Regions from separate parts of the Homo sapiens genome. Here region 1 is linked to region 2. The links come from fine-mapping of genetic effects on gene expression. A gene starts in region 2. The other region holds a variant in brackets. All regions are shown on one strand. Distances are between the middles of the regions. Region 1 has its middle 39 kb from the start of ATP6V1G3. Region 2 holds the start of NEK7 (NIMA related kinase 7).

Region 1 (2,915 bases), 420 kb before region 2:
CTTAAAAGATACAGAATGGCTGGGTGCGGTGGCTCACACCTGTAATCCCAGCACTTTGGGAGGCCAAGGCAGGCGGATCACCAGGTCAGGGATCGAGACCATCCTGGCCAACATGGTGAAACCCTGTCTCTACTAAAAATAAAAAAAAAAATTGGCCAGGCGTGGTGGCAGGCACCTGTAGTCCCAGCTACTTGGGAGGCTGAGGCAGGAAAATGGCATGAACCCAGGAGGTGGAGCTTGCACTGAGCCGAGATTGCCCCACTGCACTCCAGCCTGGGTGACAGAGCGAGTCTCCATCTCAAAAAAAAAATATCTATATCTATATCTATATATACACACACACACACACATATATATATACAGAATGGTAGAATGGGTAAGAATTCACCAATCGAGTTTCTGCTGTCTTCAGGAGACTCATCTAACATATAAGAACTCACATGAACTTAAAGTAAAGGGGTAGAAAAAGATATTTCATGCAAATAAACACCAAAAACAATCAGGAGTAGCTATTCTTATATCAGACAAAACAAACTTTAAAGCAACAGCAGTTAAAAAAGACAGAGAGGGGCTGGGTGCAGTGGCTCATGCCTGTAATCCCAGCACTTCGGGAGGCCAAGGCTGGCGGATCACCTGAAGTCAGGAGTTCAAGACCAGCCTGGCCAACATGGTGAAACCCTGTCTCTACTAAAAATACAAAAATTAGCTGGGCATGGTGGTGGGTGCCTGTAATCCCAGATACTCAGGAGGCTGAGGCAGGAGAATTGCTTGAACCCAGCTGGCGGAGGTTGCAGTGAGCTGAGATCACACCGCTGCACTCCAGCCTAGGGGACAGAGCAAGACTCTGTCTCAAAAAAAAAAAAAAAAAAAAAAAGCAATTTTTAACAATATTAACACTGGGCTCTGGGTGATAATGATGTGTCAATGTAGGTTTATCATTTGTAACAAATATATTGGTCTGGGAAATCTCCATACCTCCTGTACAATTTTGCTATGAATCTAAACCGGCTCTAAAAATAAAGTCTATAAAAATAATTTTTAAAAATAGAAAAAAGGTTAATATAATAAACTTTATGTTATGCATATTTTATCTGAATAAAAAAATGGGAAAAAATTATCCCCAAAAAAGAAAACTTTAGGTCCACATAGTTTTGCTGGTAAATTCTATGAAATGTTTAAGGAAAAATTCATACCAATTCTAAAAAAACTAGTCCAAATAATTGAAGAAATTATTCCTCACTTTCTATTAGATACAAAATCTGGAAAAAGACGTTAAAAAAAAAGAAAAGAACAGAGCAATATCCTTCATGAAAATAGATACAAAAATATTAAATAAAATTTAGCAAATTGAATCCAAATCAAGTTTTGTCCCAGAAAT[G/T]CAAGATTTGTTTAACATTTAAAAATTGATAAATGTAATTTATCATGGTAAAAAACTAAAAAAGAAAATCTATTATGATCTTCTCGGTTGATACAGAGGGAAGCATCTGACAAAATCCAACATTTATTCCTGATAAAACTCTCAGCACACTAGGAATAGAAGGGAATTTCCTTAACCTAATAATCATCACCTATGGAAATTCTATGGCTAATATTATTTTCAGTAGTGAAAACTGAATGCTTTCCCCTTAAAAAGGGGAATGAGATAATGATGTCTACTTTTATCTCTTCCTTTCAACATTGTGCAAGATATTTTAGCTACTAAGCCAAGAGTAGTTATACAAAACACATCCTGATTGGTAAGAGAAAAGTACAATTGTCTTTATCTGATGGCAGTGTGATCACTTCTGTAAAAACTTCAATGAACAATAAGCTAATAAAAAAAGCTAAGTGAGTTAGCAAGGCTGCAGAATAAAAGATCAATATAAAAATTCAATTGTATTTCTAACTGTTCCCAATGAACGTTACAAATTGAAATTTTTAAAACTATGAAAATACCGTCAATTAATACCAACTACTTACATATGAGTCTGACAAAAGATGCTCAAGCCATGCAAACTGAAAACTGTAAAATATTACTGAGAAAAATTAAAGAAAACCTAAATAAGTACAGAACTGTTTCTGTTCATGGATGAGGAGACTCAATATTTTGTAATGCAGATATGCTGCAAATTAATATATAGATTCAATGTATTCCCAGTCAAAATTTCATCAAGCTTTTATGTACAAATTGATAAGCTGATTCTAAAATTTGCTGGAAATTTAAGGGACCTAGAAAAGCCAAAGCAATTTTATAAAAGAAAAACAAAGAGGATTAGCTCTACCTAACTTCGAGACTAAGGTTAAAGTAATAAAGACAGTGTGGTATTGGTATTAAGATAGACAAATAGGCTGGGCGCGGTGGCTCACTCCTGTAATCCCAGCATTTTGGGAGGCCGAGGCTGGCAGATCACAAGGTCAGGAGATCGAGACCATCCTGGCTAACACGGTGAAACCTGTCTCTACTAAAAAAAAAAAAAAAAAAATACAAAAAATTAGCCAGGTGTGGTGATGGGTGCCTGTAGTCCCAGCTTCTTGGGAGGCTGAGGCAGGAGAATGGTGTGAACCTGGGAGGCGGAGCTTGTAGTGAGCCGAGATCGCGCCACTGCACTCCAGCCTGGGCAACAGAGCAAGACTCCATCAAAAAAAAAAAAAAATAGACAAATAGATCAATGGACCAAACCAGAGTCCAGAAACAGGCCCATACATATAGAGACAACTGATTTTTTGGCAACAGTGAAAAGGCAATTCAGTGGAGAAAAGATAGTCTTTTGACAAATGGTGCTAGAACAATTGGATAATGGCATGCAAAATATAAACTTTGGTTCGCACCTCACATCATATACAAAAATTAGCTAAAAATTGATCCTAGACCTAAATGCAAAACCAAAAGCATTAACACTTGTAAAACACATAGAAATTTTTTGTGACTTTGCATT
Region 2 (2,915 bases):
TACTTTAATTCTCTAATGCAACCTGACAAGACATACTGCTGTCGCCTGGAGGGAGTGTGCATAGCCTTGAAACTGTAAATTCCTTGGAGGAGGAACTAGAAACAGTGGTTCCCATTATGATGGGTACATTAGGCTCTACAAACTATGGAAATGTGGTGTTTTCAATTGCATCCTTGAGCTCAGTAACCTCAAAGGAGAATAATCATTTTATTTCTGTGTATTTCTGATTTTCAGTTCAGTCACCAGAATTGCGCAAGGACAGTAACATGTATCTTACTGTAAACTAAGTATATTTTTTAGCATTTCTCCCCAGTGAGGACTACAGCAAGGTGAGAACACGATACATCATCTCTCCGCGACCCCAGTACGCTCCCAGTGCAAGACTAAATAGAGGATGCTGCGGTTTTAGGAGTGAAGGCCTACAGTGTAACAGAGGCAACAGAAGTTCTTTAGCTCTCAAGGCAGCATCCTCTAGGTTGTGCTCGCTTCCTTACACTGTTCTGCGGTCATACGGTCTTGTCACTTTTCTCTGTTTTCCTTTGGCTACCCTTCTCTGACTTTGGCCTCAGTTTTCAATTTCTTTTCCATTGCCACCATCACCAGCAATGTTCGCTATTGCCTCGCAATCCCTCTCTCCGACATTTTGTAATCCCGAGTCTCTCCCAAGTTCATTCTCCGACAGACCTCTCACGCTCCCTGTACTTCTGAAGCCACTTCGGATTCTCCCCTATCTGCCGGCTCCCACCACCCACTCTCTCCCAGCGCACTTCACTTTCCTAAGTCGGGCTGCTGCCGAATCCTGACAGACGGACTTCACCAATCCGCGAGAGATAAATAACCGACGTCGCCAATGAGCATCCGCCGGAAGGCGGGACTTCGCTTAAGTTCCTCGGGTCCCGAAACCAAAGACCTGTTGCCGCCGCCGCCGTGGCCACGGAGTTTCTTAGTTACCGCGGCGCCCTTGGCGGCCTCGGGCCTCTAGAGCCGGGGCCAGGTATGAAGTTTCCTGCCGCCCCCTCCCACCGCTGCCAACGAACAAGACCGAAACCCCCATCCGCCTCGAGCGCAGCGCGCCCCGCCCCACCTACCCCGAGCGAGGGTATCCCGGAGGCCGCCCCGCGCGGTCCCGACCTCCCTCTCCCGGCCCGACTCCCGCAGGCGGCCCCTCCCGGCAGGAGCTGCCCGGTCCGGGCGCCTGAACCCTGGGCAGCGACTCACCAGGAAGTTGGGAGTTTTCCGTTCTCCCGCCCGCGAGAGACCTTGGGCGGGCGGGTGGCTCGGCGCGGCGCCGCCGTCGGAAAGCGCGCTGGGCCGGGGGCTGAGGCTGCGAGGCCCGGAGCCTGTCGGCCACCTCCCGCCGCGCCGCCCCGGCGGACGCTGCAGGCGCGGGGCACCCACCCTGCGCACTGCGAGGCGCGTCCGGAGTGCGAGCCTAGCGGCGGCCCATCCTCCCGCGACTCCCGATCCTCCTCCTGCTGCCGCCGCTGTCAGGAGTGTAAACATCCCGGCATCCCCGAGGAGAGGGGCGGGGCGGGCGCCGGCCCCACCCCGCGTCGTGAGTCCAGGCCGGCTGCCCGATGGAGGCTTCCCGCCTGCGTCCCCGGCGCTCCCTGGAGCTGGGGGAGCCTCGGCGGTTTCCCTACTGGAGCCGAAGTCGCTCTGGAGGAGCCCCTCCTGGCCCCTCTCTTCCGGTTGTCAGGCCTAGCGTGGTGCGGGGCACCGCGTCCGGTCCCCTGAGCCCTCTTCCCCGGCTGCTTTTTAAGAACCCAGGGTCGGCTGCTTTTTAAGAACTTGTTTTTTCTTCATTTATATGTAAGTGCCCCCACTTGCAAGCGGTGAACCGACTTACTGATGTTCCCTTCTGGACCACAGCGTTTGTGATCCCATCTTCTTTTACCAGGTGATTTAAACTACCTCTGTGTTTAATGTGGAGTGCAGGGAAATGAGAAAAAAAAAAAAAGGCGTTTTCCTGAGTCTGGCTAAGCAAACGTTGCATGAAAGTGTCCCAGCATAGAGGACAGGGGCTTCAACAACATTCCAGAAGGTAAACTCCCTGGTGTGGTACGGAGGATCTTTGAAATAAATATGTGCAAAATCACCCAGAACCCTAGTACACGAAACTGCAAAAGGAATGCTTTGACACCAGCAGCTTCACGACTTAAGTTAACAGGGCATGAACTACTCGAGGAGACGGCTAGGAGGCAGTATGGAGTCGGCCATACCTTAATTGTCGTCTCAACTCAGTGATTAATTTTGTGACCTGGCTGCAAGTTATTTAACCTCTCCAAGTCTCAGTAACTCTCTGTAAAAGGAGATTAGTTGTAATACCAACCTCTAGGACCATAGTTAGAATTAAGTGAGATAAAGCAAAGTGCTTAACCACAAAGCTTGGCATATAAGACGTGCTCATTAAATTGTTGCTGTTGTTCATAGGTCTCTCACTAGTTTAACTTCCCTGACAAAAAGATTAGAGCCAAGAATGAGTAGATTATACCTCAAACATTTAAAATGTTAAAGCCATGAAATTAAGATCTGGAAAGTTTATTTTTAAAAAGAAAAATGGCCGGGCGCAGTGGCTCATGGCTGTAAGCCTAGCATTTTGGGAGGCCAAGTGGGGGGGGGGGTGATCACCTGAGGTCAGGAGTTCGAGACCAGCCTGGCCAACATGGCGAAACCCTGTCTCTACTAAAAATACAAAAACTAGCCGAGCGTGGTGGCAGGAGTCTATAATCCCAGCTACTGGGGAGGCTGAGGCAAAAGAATCGCTTGAACCCGAGGCGGGGAGGAGGTTGCAGTGAGCAGAGATCGCGTTACTTCACTCCAGCGTGGGTGAAAGAGCGAAAATCCGTCTCAAAAAAATAAATAAATAAATGAAAACGTTCACGATCTCAAAAGGAGGCCTTGATTCATGTGGC

What was found. PIP is the estimated chance that this variant, and not a neighbour inherited with it, causes the effect.
Region 1: its variant is the best candidate, but not a certain one, in a credible set for the expression of NEK7 in whole blood (TOPMed, PIP 0.56).

The regions. Positions count from the first base shown.
Region 1 is chr1:198,578,069-198,580,983 of GRCh38, reverse strand. No RefSeq gene overlaps it. Among named protein-coding and RNA genes, the nearest start is that of ATP6V1G3, 39 kb to the right of the region's middle. The variant G/T (reference allele first, on the strand shown) is at 1,379.
Region 2 is chr1:198,155,580-198,158,494 of GRCh38, reverse strand. NEK7 (NIMA related kinase 7) reads right to left here and starts at 1,497. Exons shown (of 10, transcript NM_133494.3): 1 at 1,219-1,497. RefSeq lists enhancers at 772-821, 2,252-2,311 and a silencer at 1,062-1,661.